Linked DNA regions of Homo sapiens: region 1 is linked to region 2. The links come from fine-mapping of genetic effects on gene expression. Tissue or cell type: whole blood. Region 2 holds a variant in brackets; the other region holds the start of a gene. All regions are shown on one strand. Distances are from middle to middle.

Region 1 (8,183 bases), 160 kb after region 2:
GTATCCAACCTGCACATTATGCACATGTACCCTAGAACTTAAGTATATAAAAAAAAAAAAGAAAAAAAAACTTTCACCTTTTTCCAAAGTGTTGGGATTATGGGTGTGAGCAACCACATCTGGTCCTTTTTTTTTTTTTTTAATGGAGGTGAAATTCATATAAGTTTGGCCATTTTAAAGTGAACAATCAGTGGCATTCAGTACATTCACCATGTTGTGCCAACACTATCTCTATGTAGTTCCAAAACATTTTCATCAGCTCAAAATGAAACCTTGTACCCATGAAGCAGCCACTTCCCATTCTCCCCTCCCCTTAGCCCCTGGAAATCGGCTTTCTTTCTCCACGGATTTACATATTCTGTATATTTCCTATAAATGGAATTACACAATAGGTGACCTGTGTCTGGCTTCTTCCACTTAACCTAATGCTTTTGAGGTTCTGTCACATGGTGCCATGGATCAGCTCTGCCTTCCTTTTTATGACTAATACTCCACTGTATGTCCATATCACCATTTGTGTATTCACTCATTAATCTATGGACACAAGCCTCATTTTTAAGCACTTCAAATATGTTAACTCACTGAATCCTCACCACAAAGACAGATTCAGTTATTACATATTGACAGAGTGAAAACTGAGGCACAGGTAACATGCCTAGGATCACGTGGCTATGAAGCAGAAAGAGGACTCCAGCCGAGGCAGTCTAGTCCCAAAGTCCTTCCCTTCCTAGTAACCACTATGCTCTCCTGCCTCTCAGAGAACAACCCACATGGCACAACACGAGGGCTAAGCTGTCTGGTCTGTCGGGTGAAGCTTCAAATGCTGTTCATTTCCGATAAGGGGAGGTTCCTGGGCTGCAGAGGCTTCCTAGAGGAGGAAGACCATGTAAGGTCTAACTCAGGGCAGGTCAGGATGGTGTGAACTCACTCTGAACACAGTCACCGATGGGTGTTTAGGAAAATTGGCTCTGGAACTCCCACAGGGAAGGTTCTTATCTTTGCGTGCACAACACAGAGCCCTCTGGGTAGACTTCTAGACCCAGGCCTCTTTCAAATACATTAGAAACCTCAGCAAGATAAACTATTTTCTGTCTGGCTGCATCTGTCTATCTGTTTAGAGAGCAGGACATTTCCATCCTCCTCTCTCCAGGCATCCTTGGAAGTCTTTCCCACAAGCAAGACATCTTGGTGAAATTTAATGCTGCGGAGGGAAGTGGTTTTCAGGAGAGAGGAGTCTGTTCCCAGAACTGTAGCACAAAAGCTAGAGGCTGAGTAGGAACATCTTAAACTAAGTCCTCAGTCTTATTTCCAGTTTTCTTCCTGTAGATCGGGGCTTAGGACACCCTGTCACATTTTCTTCACTCCTCCACCAGGAATTCCTAAAGTCCATGCTCTTGGATCCTGGCAAATCCAGGAGGCTGGGGGATGTGGCAAGCTTCAGCAAGACTGCCTGGGACCAACCCTGCAGCCTTAATTCCCAGGCCCGCTCAGCCCAGCTGGCCAGCAAAGGCAGGCAGAGCTTCTGTGTCCACACATGAGAATGACCTGCAGCTGTTCTTTGTCCAGGCTGAGGTCCAGGATTCCCATTGCAGCTCCTAGGAAATCTTTAAAATTAGGTCGGGGATGAGCCTGTCAGTAGATTAGGTAGGGAACTTTTATGAAGTTGAGGGTGAACCATCTGGAGGGTGAACTGGCTGGTGTGATTCTAGAACTGGGGGTGGTGCCTAGCAGTGCATTTGTGAGAAGACACAGCCAGGCTTGGTATATGATGTGGTGTGTGTGTATATTCACAGGCATCGTGGAGCATATACACTTTTTTTGTGTGTGTTGAAATAAACCTTACAGATTACAAAGTACTTTTTTTTTTTTTTCTGAGACAGGGTCTCTCTCTGTCGCCCAGCCTGGAGTGCAGTGGTACAATCATAGCTCACTGCAGCCTCGATCTCCCAAGCTCAAGTGATCCTCCCGCCTCAGCCTCCCATGTAGCTGGGACTACAGGTGTGTGACACCATGACTGGCTATTTTATTTTATTTTTGTAGAGATGGAATCTCACAATATTGCCCAGGCTGATCTCAAACTCTTGGGCTCAAGCAGTCCTCTCGCGTCAGCCTACCAAAGTGCTAGGATTACAGGCATGAGCCACCACGCCCAGCCAGATTACAAAATACTTTGACATCTTTTCTCTACAGCCCTCAAAAGGAGGCAGGGCAAGCACAATTAAATCCCATTACAAATGGGGTGACTGAAGCTCCATTCATGGCTTGCCCAGGGTCACACAAAGAATGAATAGCAGATCCCTGAGCCTGTGTGCTTCCCTCTGTGCCAGGCTGCTTTACCCAGGCATGGGTGCACGTTGTGCATGGGACATTTCTCCTTTGTTGTGTCCTGAGTACCTTAAGCCACTCAGATATTGCTCAGGTGGAGTGAGGGGAAAATGTTTTCAGGTTGTATTAGTCAAAACAAAATACCACACACTGGGCGACTTTAAAATCATACATTTATCCCTCACAGTTCTGGAGGCTTGGAAGTCCAAGTTCAAGGTGGCAGCTGGACAGGTTCCTGGTGAGGGCTCTCTTCCTGGTTTGCAGACAGCCACCTTCTCTTCGCATCCTCACTTGGTGGGAAAAGACAGAGGAGAGAAAGAGAGAGAGAGAAAAATGAGATAGAGAGAGAGAGAGAAATGAGATAGAGAGAAATGAGAGAGAGAGAGAGAGAGAGAGAGAGAGGGAGACACAGAGACAATGCTCTCTTTTCTTACCAGATCTATAATGAGGGCCCCACCCCATGACCTCATCTAACCGTAATTACCTACCAAAGGCCCATCTCCACATACCATCACATTAGGGGTTAGGGTTTCAACATAAGCATTTGGAGAGGACATAAACATTCTGTCTACAACATGAGTGGAGATCCATCTCTTCTTTACCTCTGGTAAGGGGACCACACGCTGCAGCCAGCGAGACAGTGGCATGTTCTTGTTACAACTCGATCTAACTCCCCCAGAAGAGGAGGCAGGGAAGGCGGACAAAACTGGGAGAGGGAGAGAGTGTTAGGAAGAGAGTAGGGTGGCCAGAGGCAGCAAATAAAATATAAAATGCTTAATTCTGAATCTCAGATAAACAACCAATAATGTTTTTTAGCATAAGTATGTCCCAAACTAAGCTTGGGACATATTTATGCTACGAAATTATTCGTTGTTTATCTAAAATTCAAACTAGCTGGGCATCCTGTCTTTTAATCTGGCAACCCTAAAAGGCAAGGGCCAAAAATGCCGGAGGCAAGCCAACGGATTCCAGGAGGGACAACTGCTGGACTTTGGACTGATGATGCTCTTTTTATATATTTAACTTTTTAAAAAAGCCTCTTTTCTTTCTTTTTACCAGCTTTTCACTAGCTTTTTAAAAATTGTGGTAAAACATACATAACCTAAAATTCACCGTCTAAACCATTTTTCAGCATACAGTTCAGTGGGATTAAGTAGATTCACACCGTTGTGCCGCCATCACTACCACTCATTTCCAGCACCCTTCCATCACCCCAGCCTGAAACTCTACCCATTGAACACGAGCTGCCCAACTCCGCCTTGCTTCCCCATTCCTGGCGACCACTGCTTCTGTCTCTGTGAATTTTGACTATTCTAGGCACTTCACAAAACTGGACTCATACGATATCTGTAGTTTTGCGTCTGGCTTCTCTATTGAATTCTTAAAGGGGGGTGGGAACTAAGCAGATCACAAGGGAGCTGCCCACAGAGGTAAAGACAAGGTCAGGTAGGCTGAGAGACGCAGGAAAGCGGGTCAAGGCGTAGGGCTGGAGGGCAGGGGCGGGCCCTGGGCGTGGGCTGGGGGTCCTGCCCCGGGGCGCACCCCGGGCGAGGGCTGCCCGGAGGAGCCGAGGTTGGCGGACAGCTTGGCCCTGAGCTTGAGGGGAAGGCAGCGATGGGACAAAGGACGGAGGTCTAGGAAGAGGGTCTGCAGAGCAGAAAGCACGGGTAGGGGCGGCCTGACGCTCGGAAGACAACGGATGGGAGCCGTGTGCACGTCGGGAGCTCGGAGTGAGCGTGAGTTCCGTGCCCAGGCCCGCGACTCGGCCCGACAGGACAGCGCTCCGGGTCGACGGGGTCCTGGAGCCGCGCTCGGGGAGGCGTCTTGGGCTCGCCCCGGAGCTTCCTCCCTGGAGCCGCGCCCTGCACCCGGCCTTGCCCGGCCCTAGCAGGGAAGCCAAGGCTTGTGGGGCGCAGGGACCCGGGCTCTGCGGGGTCCCGGTTCCGCCTCCCCACTCCTGCGTCTTCCCGCCCCTGCCGGGTTCTGGGAAGCCTCGCGCGGCTCTTCCGCAGCTGCTGCCCGCCCGGAGCTCCTGGTCCCTCGTAGGGGACCCCACTTCTCTGACACCGCTTTGGGTTCCCGGGGCCTACAGCGAGGCTTGTAACTCCGGGAGAGACCCTGGAGCGGGGTGTGGGAGAACGGTCTGGAGGAAGGGCTCCGAGCACTTCGAAAGTATAAACCGCGGTCCCAAAGAGGCGTGCTGTGTCTGCATTTTCCTGGGAGTGCACGGTTTACATTCTCGAAAGCAGTGCTGTCGACTAGAAATATTGAGCGATACACATGTACAAGTTTTGTCACTTAAAAAGAATTTGAAAAAACTTCATAGATGCAAAAAAAAAAAAAAACCCACCATTATTAAAGAATACTTAGGTATTTGTGGAATGCATTGAAGAGTTAACAAAATGGATAGGCAGGAAATATCGCAGACCTAGAATGAATTACAGTTACCCACTGTGGAACTGAGGAGCTAGGGTTTCTCATAAAACTCCCTGATAGAAGACGACTTTTGATAAAATTTTTTTTCCGCCAACAAAATCCCCTGTCTTCTCAACTAGTTACTGTCTGTCCACTAAATAAGAGGTGGTCCGTCACTTCTTCAGATGAGCAACTACAGGCTTTTCAAAAGATAATTGCTAATCAACCCCTTTGTGCCTGGGTTTTCTTATTTGTAAAAATAGATACTACTACCTAACTCCAAAGTGTGTGGTGAAGACAAACAATTGGGGTGATGTATACTAAAGTAACGAAAGTGTTGACCACACACTACGGGCTGGTTAGTGTTAGATTCCCTTGTTTTTCCCTCAGTATCAAAAACAGATCTAATTTAGGTTTACATAAAGACAAAGTATGAAGATAAGGTGACTTACAGTTGGTACTACTAACAAAATGTTTGGGCTAATATTTGCATTATTGCATGAAAACAACAAAACATATCAATAAATAACAAAAAGCTTGGAATTCAGACGACAGATCCAAGTCTGGGCTTGATCTCAAGCTAGTGTTTTGATGTTGAAAAAATGTTATTTGGTCTTTCTAACCCCATTTCCTTATGTAAAATAGGGGATGATGATAAATTCACTGATAATAAGAGTTAAATGAGATTCTTGAGGAGTCAGAATGGTTCTAACATGTGTAGGTATTATTAGCAGTCATACTGTAGCATAAGAAAATACCGTCTGCTGAAAGAGGGACAATAAAGATTATCTACATGGTCATCATTTAAAAGCTACCAGATATAGGAAGAAGGGGCCATAAAATGATAACGTTATGATGATTAATTTTGATGCTTAGGTCAGAGTCCATTCTAGGATATCTGCTGCCCAAAAACAGCAGAGACTCATTTCTTTGGAATCACAGGACGCTGAGTGAGAGGAAAGAAAAAGAAAAGAAATATTTAAGTCACATATGTGATTTCTAAAAGTAAAAAGAAACAGATGAAATTAGTGATATATTTTTAAAATCCAGTATATCCCAAATATGGTTATTTTAGCATGTAATCAATATAAAATAATAAGATATTTTACATTCTTTTTTTCTAGCCTTTGAAATTTGGTGCATATTTTACACTTATGGCACATCTCAATTCAGACTATCCACATTTCAAGTGCTCAGTGGCTGCATGTGCCTGGTGGCTACCATATTGGACAGCACAGGTCTAAGGATTTCATTCCTGCCACAAGTCCAAACTCCTAGCTTTAATTTTGAGTGTTTTTAACAAACTGGCCTCTGTTTATCATTCTTTCTTCTAGTACTTCCCCAAGGATGATTGTACCCTCAGCACTCAAGACCGCTTGCGGTTCCCCTACACACTTTTTGTTCAAGCTGTTTCTTTTACCTGGAATGCTGTCTTTGCACCTTCTTCCTGGACCTGGTTCACCCTCGTTGCCTAGGCTGGAGTGCCATGGCGCGATCTTGGCACACTGCAACCTCCACCTTCCCGGTTCAAGTGATTCTCCTTCCTCAGCCTCCCGAGTAGCGGGGATTACAGGCCTGCACCACCACGCCTGGCTAATTTTGTATTTTTAGTAGAGATGGAGTTTCACCATGTTGGTCAGACTGGTCTCGAACTCCCGACCTCAGGTGATCTGCCTGCCTTCGCCTCCCAAAGTGCTGGGATTACAGGCGTGAGCCGCTGCGCCCGGCCGAGAGGCACACATTCTGCTAAGAGCTTTTTCCTGACTCCCCTAACTCCAAGAGGGATTTGTCACTCCTTAGCTTTGTACCCATGACTGGAGTAGAATGAATTTAATTTGAGTTTAGTTGTTTTTGAGACTCTCCCTGGCTAGTGTAGTGTCTTATTCGTCTTTGTTGTGATCATGGCCTGCACCTAACAGATGATCAGTAGATGTTTGCAGACAGAAAGTAAACCACTCATCAGGTGTATTCAGTCCCATTCTTGAACGGGCTTGCTGCCTCCTTTTTGAGGAGATCTGTGTATGTACTCTTCTTTCACGCATATGTGTGAGCAAACACACACACACTAACAAGAAATTCATCTGAAGATGTGCACAGGAAATATCTTGCATCTTTACCCCCTTTGTGATCTTACATATGGGAGAACTGAGGCACAGAAATAAGTTAGGACAGCCAGCAAACTTGCATCAGTATAAATACAAAGAAGGGGAGGGAGGAACATGCTTGAAAGGGGTGTGCTGGTCTCAGAGGGTTGGGTTTCTCAGTTGGCTGGGCATCAGCTGGCCATGCTTTAGTTATTTGATGGGAGGAAAAATAAGTGGGAGGTGAGGAGTAACTCCTGGGCTCTGATGAGTATTCAAGGCAAGTACAGATCTGGAAAGCCTGTATGCAAAGGAGGAACTCACTGAAAAGTGCTGGCCTGAGGAGGGCAGAAGGGAGGGCTGGGGAAGCCAGCAGCGGGAGCAAAGGAGTAGGCTCCAACTGGGTGAAGATGTTGGTGTGGTGCGTTATGTAAAATATACAAATTATTATTGGAAATAACCACGTCTCAGCAGTGCTAGTTCTCAGTTTGGAGAATGGGAAATCGAAAGGATCAGATTCAGAGACGGCAACTTACTCAAGGTCACAGCATTTTAAACCCAAGTGAAATCTCCTAGGCCCTTCATGCCACACTCATCCATCCATACCTACTTGTGTTGCAACCAAGGGCCCCACTGTAGTGCCTAGGGGAGCAGGTCTAGGGCACAGTGCCAGGCCTGATTAATGTCTTCCTTACCATTTTCCAGTGAGGGGCTGTGATTAGGCCTATTTATAGGGGCCTGGTCCCTTAATATTCTGCCTGGTGCATCTCTTGCCAATCAAATCAGTGCTGTCTGCAGTGTGATTGCTGCTTTAGTGGCACCAGGGAGAGGAGTTAATTAAACCCAATATAAATAGACTCTGCCCTCACTTTGCAATTCCAGGAGTGTTTTTCCTTCCTGTCCTCCACCCCCACAGGCACCTCTTTCCTCTTGTCCCCCTAAGCTCTAGCCTGGGTGAGCAGGGCTGGATACTCCTATACCTAGAGTCACTAGCCACTGCCCAGTCTGTTTCAGGAGCAGGCCTCAGATTCCTCAGGGGTTAAAGTGGGAAGAACCCGTGTGTGCACATTTTTTGTGCTTTTCCAGAACTGTGTACCATTTGGCAGTTGATCAGGCAATCTCCCCTGCTACCCCATTTCTACCCCTTTGTTTCCAGCCTCTTTTTTCCTCTGCAACCAAGGTTTCTTGTTTATCCAAGGTGGGGAGCTGAACTGAGACAAGGTATGGAAAGGGTGCCTGGCAGGTAGCAAGCACCTTGTAGGGGGTCAGAAATGTTGCACCTTCTCTGAACTCCTCCATTGACCCTACAGATTCCCCAGTCCCGGGCCCTGCCCTTTCCCTCATTCACTCAGCAGGCATCAG
Region 2 (8,183 bases):
AGACCAGCCTGACTAACATGGAGAAACCCCATCTCTACTAAAAATACAAAGTTAGCTGGGAATGGTGGCTCATGCCTGTAATCCAAGCTACTCGGGAGGCTGAGGCAGGAGAATCACTTGAACCTGGGAGGCGGAGGTTGCAGTGAGCAGAGACCGCACCATTGCACTCCAGCCTGGGCAACAAGAGCAAAACTCCGTCTCAAAAAAAAAAAAAAAAAATCTTATGTTCCCCATAAATATAAATACCTATTATGTACCAATAAAAGTAAAAAGTAAAAAGTTTCAATTGATTCACAACTTTAAAAAATATCCACAGAGGCGTAAGAGGAGATATTGTATTGCACCCACAAACCAGTCTTATGCTGTTTCAGAAAGGGACATTCAAGAAACAAAAAGGGAGCTCTGGGAAATTTGAACAATAAATAATAGTAGAATAAAAAATTCAGAGAAAGTTTGGATGATAAATTGGAGCCAATCTCCCAGTAAGCAGAGCAAAAATATAGAAAATGAGAGTTAGAAAAGAAAAAGAAAAAAATTAAAGGACTAAAATAAGAAGTCCAACATCTAAATAAGAGGCGATCCACAGAGAGCAACAGAGATAAGAGAAGAAAGGAAATAATCAATAAAATAATTCCAGAAAATCCAAGGACATGAGTTCTCAGATTGTAACAGACTACTCGAGTGAAAAAAAAAAAAAAAAAAAGAATGGAGTTAGACCCATCCCAAGTCACATTATTTGTGCGATTTTAAAATACCGATATATTAGTTTGCTAGAGCTGCAGTAACAAAACACCACAGACTGGGTGGCTTGAACAGCAGAAATTTGTTTTCTCATGGTTCTTGATGCTAGAAGTCTAAGATCGAGGCGACAGCAGTTTCGTTTTTTCCTGACGCTTCTCTCCTTAGCTCACAGATGGCTGTCTTCTAGTTGTGTCCTCATACTGTCTTCCCTTGGTCACTGTTGTCTGTGTCCTCGTCTCCTCTTCTTAAAAGGACACCAGTCATATTAGGTTAAGAATTGCCCATTAGACCTCATTTTACCTTAATTACCTCTTTAAAGGCCCCACGTCTAAATACAGTCATATTCTAAACTACTGGGGGTTAGGGCTTCACTGAGTGAATTTTGGTGGAAAGTGGGGCGGGGGACACAATTCAGCCTACAAAAACTGGAAACAAAGTGAAAATCCTATGTGTTTCCGTGCTCAGAAGACAGGAAGTAGTCATACCCAAGAGTCAATAATTAAACTGGTTTCTCACCAGCAATTTGGAGACTGGAAGTTGGAAGACACAGAGCAGTGCCTACCACATTCAAAAGAGAAAAGAGGCCGGGCATGGTGGCTCACGCCTGTAATCCCAGCACTTTAGGAGGCGAGGAGGATGGATCACCAGGTCAGGTGTTCAAGACCAGCCTGACCAACATGGTGAAACGCTGTCTCTACTAAAAATACAAAAATTAGCTGGGCATGGTGGAACACGCCTGTAATCCCAGCACTTTGGGAGGCCACAGAGGGCAGATCACCAGGTCAGGAGTTTGAGACCAGCCTGACCAACAAGGTGAAACCCCATCTCTACTAAAAATACAAAAATTAGCCAGACGTGGTGGCGCATGCCTGTAATCCCAGCTACTCAGAAGGCTGAGACAGAAGAATCACTTGAACCCAGGAGGTGGAGGTTGCAGTGACCCGAGATCGTGCCACTGCACTCCATCCTGGGTGACAGAATGAGACTCCGTCTCAAAAAAAAAAAAAAAAAAAAAAAGAGAGAGAGAAAAGAATTCCAACCCAGAATTCTCAACTTCACTGTGTCAGAGGATATGAAGTAAACAAATATTCATCTCTACATTTGCCAGTCCCTGTGGACTTAGACCAGATAGTATAAATAATAGTCACAAAAGGAGTATGAATGGGATAAGAAGCCACTTCTAGTCTGAGACAATTAAGAGTAGTAGTGCCTTCTCTGCACTCTCACCCCCTCATTCTGACAGCTGAAGTGAAGGACTCCCAACTTCTGGAACTGCCCAATGAAAGTAGCCTTGTGTGAGTGTTAGCTGGCCTGCTTTGGTCTGGGATGCAAGTAGAAATAAACTCCTCTCATATTAAGCCACTAAGACTTTAGGGATATGTTGCTGTAGCATAGCCTAATATAGCCTGATTACTGAACGAGCCACCCCATCAACTGAATCTATGTATATACTAAAAACATTTTAAGATATGCAAGGTCTCAAAGAGTTCACTCGATGCACGCTTTTTCTCAGGAAGCTACTAGAGGATGTGCTCTACAAAAAATAAAGGTATAAATTATGAAAGAGGAAAACATAGGATTTAGGAATCAAGGGAATTCAGCACAAGACAGAAGAAAAGGGAATCTGCAGCAAGATCCCTGAGCTGTGCATGTAACATAAAGGGCAACAATTTCCAACACAGAGCAGATCACAAGACCCGAGGATAGATTTCTTGAAGAAAATGAAATTAAAAGAATACTGGATTCATCTGAACATACGAAAAGGAGATTTAAGCAACTTTTTAAGAGCTTGGGAATGAATTAATGATAAATATATGGTATTATGCAACCAAAACTACAATAAAAACTCATTAAAAATTATAACTCATAAAATTATTAATTTCAGGGAAAATAAAAAGTTGAGTAGGAATGAAAAAAGAATCAGAGGATACTATAAAGCTCATCTGTGGATATTGTTTACGTAGTCATAATAATGAAAAAGAAATAATCTAACCAAAATTAAACGTTGGAAGTGTGGGGAGATAGAAATGGTAGAGTGTATTCGGTATTTATGTGTTGGGGAGGATACCTGTAAGTTTAACATTAGTGAGCTTTACTTTACTAAGGCTAAATAAACAAACTCAAGTGTCCAGAAAGGCTAGAGAAGGAGCTTACAAGAATGAAGCTATTGTGGTGTGATTCAATGGGGAATAGGTGAGGCATTGGCAACATCAATTTGTAGTATCCCTGCCAATTGATACTACAACATCAATTTGTAGTATCCCTGCCAAAATTTAACTATGGAAAATAGTTAAATTTTAATATGCACACATCTGTGGTTGTGGTTATACAGATATATATATATATAAAATAAAAATTTATATATAAATAAATACATAAACAAACTCAAGTGTCCAACAGGGCTAGATAAGGAGCTTACAAGAATGAAGCAGCTGTGATGTGATTCAATAGGGAATAGGTGGGGCCTTGGCAAACCAAAGAACATATTCTGTCTAAAGTGGATGGCCACAACTTGCTCCAGCTGTGGAAACTTGGGCCATGTACTGCTAGATCTAAGGATTTTCTTTTGAGAGATGCTAGATATATACGTTTTTTAAAAATAAAATTATCCTGATTTTAACAACATTGTGTTATTATATAAAACATACCTTGGAGGGTGTGGGTAAGACACAATGTCCTTGAAATTATATTTCACTGGGTTAATGAAATTGGCTCCGGAAGAAACTAATTTTAAACAGCAAACCAAAGAGTGAAGGCCTTCAAAACTAACAAACCAAAGGAAAACAAAACAAAATGACAACAAGAAAAAAACAAAGAAACAAAACCCCTGGACCTTACCATTTTTCTAAGGCATGTTGACATGATAAAATCAAA[AT/T]TGCTTTGTGCATATAAGGATCAAAGGTTATGCTTTTGACTTTATAAATTCAGAGAAAGAATTTAATTGGAATTATTTTTATGAATTAACTGAAGATCTAAGGCAACTGGATAATTTAGGTTCTGCTACTATCTAGAATGTTCAAAGTTTATGTTTAGTCTGACACTAAAGAATCCATTATTTCTCTTGACTTCCAGGCTGGTCAGTGTCTTTCCTGTGTCATATACCAAACAATGTGTTAGAAATTGTCTTCTCACTCATAAACTAATATGTGTTCAGAGTAAAAAGGCAAGCAAGTAAATAATGAGAGAAAATTCAGTGTATTGTATAAACAAAGACAGAAGGCAGACCAATGGTTACCTGGGGCCAAAGCTAAAGAGATTAATTGTACACAGACACAAAGGAATTTTTTGGGATGGTGAAAGTGTTCTAAGACTGGATTGGGATGATTGTGGCACTACTGTATAAATGTTATTAAAACTCATTGAGTTGTACACTTAAATGAGTGGCTAAGTTGTGCCTTAATAAAGCTGTAATTTTGAAAAAGAATAATGGGTGATCAACTGTGAGCTAGAGTATGATGAAAACACAAGACATTTACATAGTTTCAAAGTATCTCCCCATCAGGTACTTATTAACTGCATCAGGGAAACAGTAATTTTATTGTGGCAGAACCCTGCTGACAAAGTTAACATTCTAGTAAAAGCACAGGTGGACGTCTTGTGCCTCCTGAAGTGATGCACAGAGAAGGATGCAACATCAACTTGTAGTATCCCTGCCAAAAATATATAACCTGAATTTAACCATGCTGAAACATAAGACAAATCCAAGCGAAGGAACATTCTACAAAACAACTGACCAGTACTCCTCAAGAGTGTCAAGGTCCTGGAAGACAAAGACTGAGCAATGCTTCTGATTAAAGTAGACTGAGAGGTGACAACTGAATGCAATGTGGGATTCTGGATTAGGTCTTGGCCCAGAAACAGGTCTTCGGTGGGACAACTGGCAAAATGTGAATAAGGTCTCTGGTTTTGTGAATGGTAGCGTATCGATGCTCATTACCTGCTTTTGATCATGGTAGTGATAGTAAGATATTAACATTCAGGAAAACACAGTGAAGGGTATATGTGAATCTCTACTATTTTTGTAACTTTTGTAAGTTGAAATTGTTTCAAAATGAGTTAGAAGATTAAAAGGAAGTTTTCTCTTTCAGCTGGGAAAACGGCAATGGATTAATAACAAGAAATTAATGGTGAAGTGGTGACTAAAATTCTACATTGCTTAGAAAGCAAGTAAGAAAATCAGTGGTTGTAGAGAAGTTCTTCCATGAGGTAATAAAAATAAAAACTGTGATGTTAAGCATTTTCTATTTTCTTTTCCTCCCCTCCAAATGAAACAGCATACTATTCTGCATGTTTTTCTACCTAACGATGTATCATTTTAACGACTCTTGTATTTTAAACCTAAAATTTTGATTAAGCTTCACTTAATATTAAAAAAGATAGTATAGGTCACGATGTTATTTGATGCAAACGTTGGAAAGACAGAATCTTCTTGATCCAAGAGCTTCTAGAATTCAAAGTCTGATTCTGGTTATTTCTCTGCTCATTTAAGATAGTGAAATGAACATTTACATTCTGGCAACCTCAGAAGTACAACGAACAGAGGACACCCGCCAGGTAGGGCAAAGGCCTGTGCACCCCCTTTTGCTGTTACATGTTTACCAGGTGCGTGCTCTGTTTCTGTTGTATTACATTACTTTTCTCTTCAATGTCTACTGAGGAAGAACAAGTAGCTCCTCAGGCAAGTCAACTGTTAACTCTGCAGTTTTTATTTAATCTCCCAGGAATGTAACCTTTAACTTTAAAGAATGTAGTGACCATAAAACTTATAAAGCATGTTTCTTAAGGAAATTGTACCTGTTTATTTAATCTATCAGATATGAATGTTATAGAAAATTAAATTTGTCCACTTAAGCTATAGATGAACTTTTCACCTTTCTGATCAGAAATTCACCATCTTATAGTATAGGTTCTGTTATTAATCAGAATATTTCATTTAGACTCTTTCTATCCAACTTTTTCTTAGAGGCTATTCAAAATAAAGGTGCTTCTAACAGTTTCATATCGAAATACGATGCAAAGCCTTGCTCTTCCATGGTATCCTTTGAGTGAGCCAAACTTATTTGGTCATTCCCCTATAGTTAAATAGCTAGGATGTTTCCAACATCTCACCTTTAAAACAATAGTGCTATGAATGTCATAAATGTTTGTATATGTAAATATGTAGGATAAATGCCTATCAGTAGAATTTCAAAAGGTATACGCAATCAGTATTTTCATACATATTTAAAATTTTCCATCCATACAAAGGTTGCTAACATATTTATTTAAAATTTTAAAAATAATTTTATATGCCTCTTGTAACCAGTAATAGGATGCAAAGTTTTTTTTTAAGGTAACATTGCTCCTCTTCCCCCACTGTCTCTGTCATCTATAGTACTCCCTGAGGTAGTTCATGTTATTGCAAGGGTGTGTATCATCCCAAACATATTGCTTCCACATACATATATCAGCATACATATATATATATGTATAGCATGTATATATGAGCACATATTAATATATGCCCATGCACATACAAGCATGTTTTTGTTAATTTTTACTGAAATGGAATCATGCTACATACTTATGAACAAATTGCTTCTTTCACCTTATATCACTTATAATTGTTATTCTACAAATCAGTACATATAAAAAATACATATTTACTTATGTAATACTCTATCTTTCTGTTATAATTTTCTGCATGCACATGTATGCATATACATATATTCATAAACATAAAAATCTAAACGGGATTTTTTTTGGGGGGGTGATATGGTTTGGCTGTGTCCCCACCCAAATCTCATCTTGAATTCCCATGTGTTGTGGGGGGACCCGGTGGGAGGTAATTGAATTATGGGGGCAGGTCTTTCCTGTGCTGTTCTCGGGATAGTGAAAAAGTCTCACGAGATCTGATGGTTTTAAAAAGATGAGTTTCCCTGCATAAGCTCTCTTCTCCTGTCTGGTTCCATGTGAGATGTGCCTTTTGCCTTCCGCCATGATTGTGAGGCCTCCCCAGCCATGTGGAACTGTAAGTCCAATAAACCCCTTTCTTTTGCAAATTGCTCAGTCTCAGGTATGTCTTTATCAGCAGCATAAAAATGAAACAATACAGTAAATTGGTACAAGTAGAGTGGGGCGCTGCTGAAATGATACCTGAAAATGTGGAAGAAACTTTGGAACTGGGCAACAAGCAGAGGTTGGAACAGTTTTGAGGGCTCAGAAGACAGGAATATGTGGGAAAGTTTGGAGCTTCCTAGAGACCTGTTGAATGACTTTGCCCAAAATGCTGACAGTGATATAGACAATAAAGTCCAGGCTGAGGTGGTCTTAGATGGAAACAAGAAACTTGTTGGGAACTGGAGCAATGGTGACTCTTCTTATGTTTTAGTAAAGATACTAGGGGCATTTTGCCCCTGCCATAGATATATGTGGAACTTTTAACTTGAGAGAGATGATTTAGGGTACCTGGCAGAAGAAATTTCTAAGCAGCAAAGCATTCAAGAGGTGACTTGGGTGCTGTTAAAGGTATTCAGTTTTATAAGGGAAGCAGAGCACAAAAGTTTGGAAAATTTGCAGCCTGACAATGTGCTAGAAAAGAAAATCCCATTTTCTGAGGAGAAATTCAAGCTGGCTGCAGAAATTTGCATAAGTAACAAGGAGCTGAATGTTAATCCCCAAGACAATGGGGAAAGTGTCTCCAGGGCATGTCAGAGTTCTTCATGGCAACCCTCCCATCACAGGCCCAGAGGTTTAGGAGGAAAAAGTGGTTTCGTGGGCTGGGCCCAGGGTCCCTCTGCTGTATGCAGTCTAGGGACTTCATACCCTGCATCCCAGCCATGAATGAAAGGGGCCAAAGTACAGCTCTGTCTGTTGCTTCAGAGGGTGCAAGCCCCAAGCCTTGGCAGCTTCCACATGGCTTTGAGCCTGTGGGTGCACAGAAGTCAAGAATTGAGGTTTGGGAAACTCCGCCTAGATATCAGAAGATGTAGAAGTTTGCGGTAGGGGTGGGTCCCTCATGGAGAACCTCTGCTAGGGCAGTGTGAAAGGGAAATGTGAGATTGGAGCCCCCAAACAGAGTCCCTACTGGGGCACCATCTAGTGGAGCAGTGAGAAGAGGGCCACTGTTCTTTAGACCCCAGAATGGTAGATCCATGGACGGCTTGCACTGTGCACCTAGAAAAACCACAGACACTCAATGCCAGCCCGTGAAAGCAACCTGGAGAGAGGCTGTACCCTGCAAAACCTCAGGGGCAGAGCTGCCCAAGACCATAGGAACCAACCCCTTGCATCAGCATGACCTGGATGTGAGACATGGAGGCAAAGGAGATCATTTTGGAGCTTTAAGATTTGACTGTCCCACTGGATTTCAGACTTTCATGGGGCCTGTTTCCCCTTTGTTTTGGCCAATTTCTCCCATTTGGGATGGCTGTATTTACCAAATGCTGTACCCCCATTATATC

Evidence for each region. PIP is the estimated chance that this variant, and not a neighbour inherited with it, causes the effect.
Region 1: it holds the start of WASHC1, and the variant in region 2 is fine-mapped to the expression of WASHC1 in whole blood (TOPMed, PIP above 0.99).

The regions. Positions count from the first base shown.
Region 1 is chr9:25,190-33,372 of GRCh38, reverse strand. It overlaps WASHC1 (WASH complex subunit 1), which reads left to right and starts at 3,917. Exons shown (of 11, transcript NM_001378090.1): 1 at 3,917-4,061. It overlaps MIR1302-9HG (MIR1302-9 host gene), which reads right to left and starts at 3,714. Exons shown (of 3, transcript NR_197460.1): 1 at 3,491-3,714; 2 at 2,928-3,031; 3 at 2,482-2,615. MIR1302-9 (microRNA 1302-9) reads right to left here and starts at 3,229; the gene lies at 3,092-3,229.
Region 2 is chr9:189,000-197,182 of GRCh38, reverse strand. It overlaps LOC105375943 (a long non-coding RNA gene), which reads left to right. Exons shown (of 3, transcript XR_001746595.2): 2 at 4,830-4,947; 3 at 5,231-6,469. Among named protein-coding and RNA genes, the nearest start is that of ZNG1A, 14 kb to the right of the region's middle. The variant AT/T (reference allele first, on the strand shown) is at 3,616.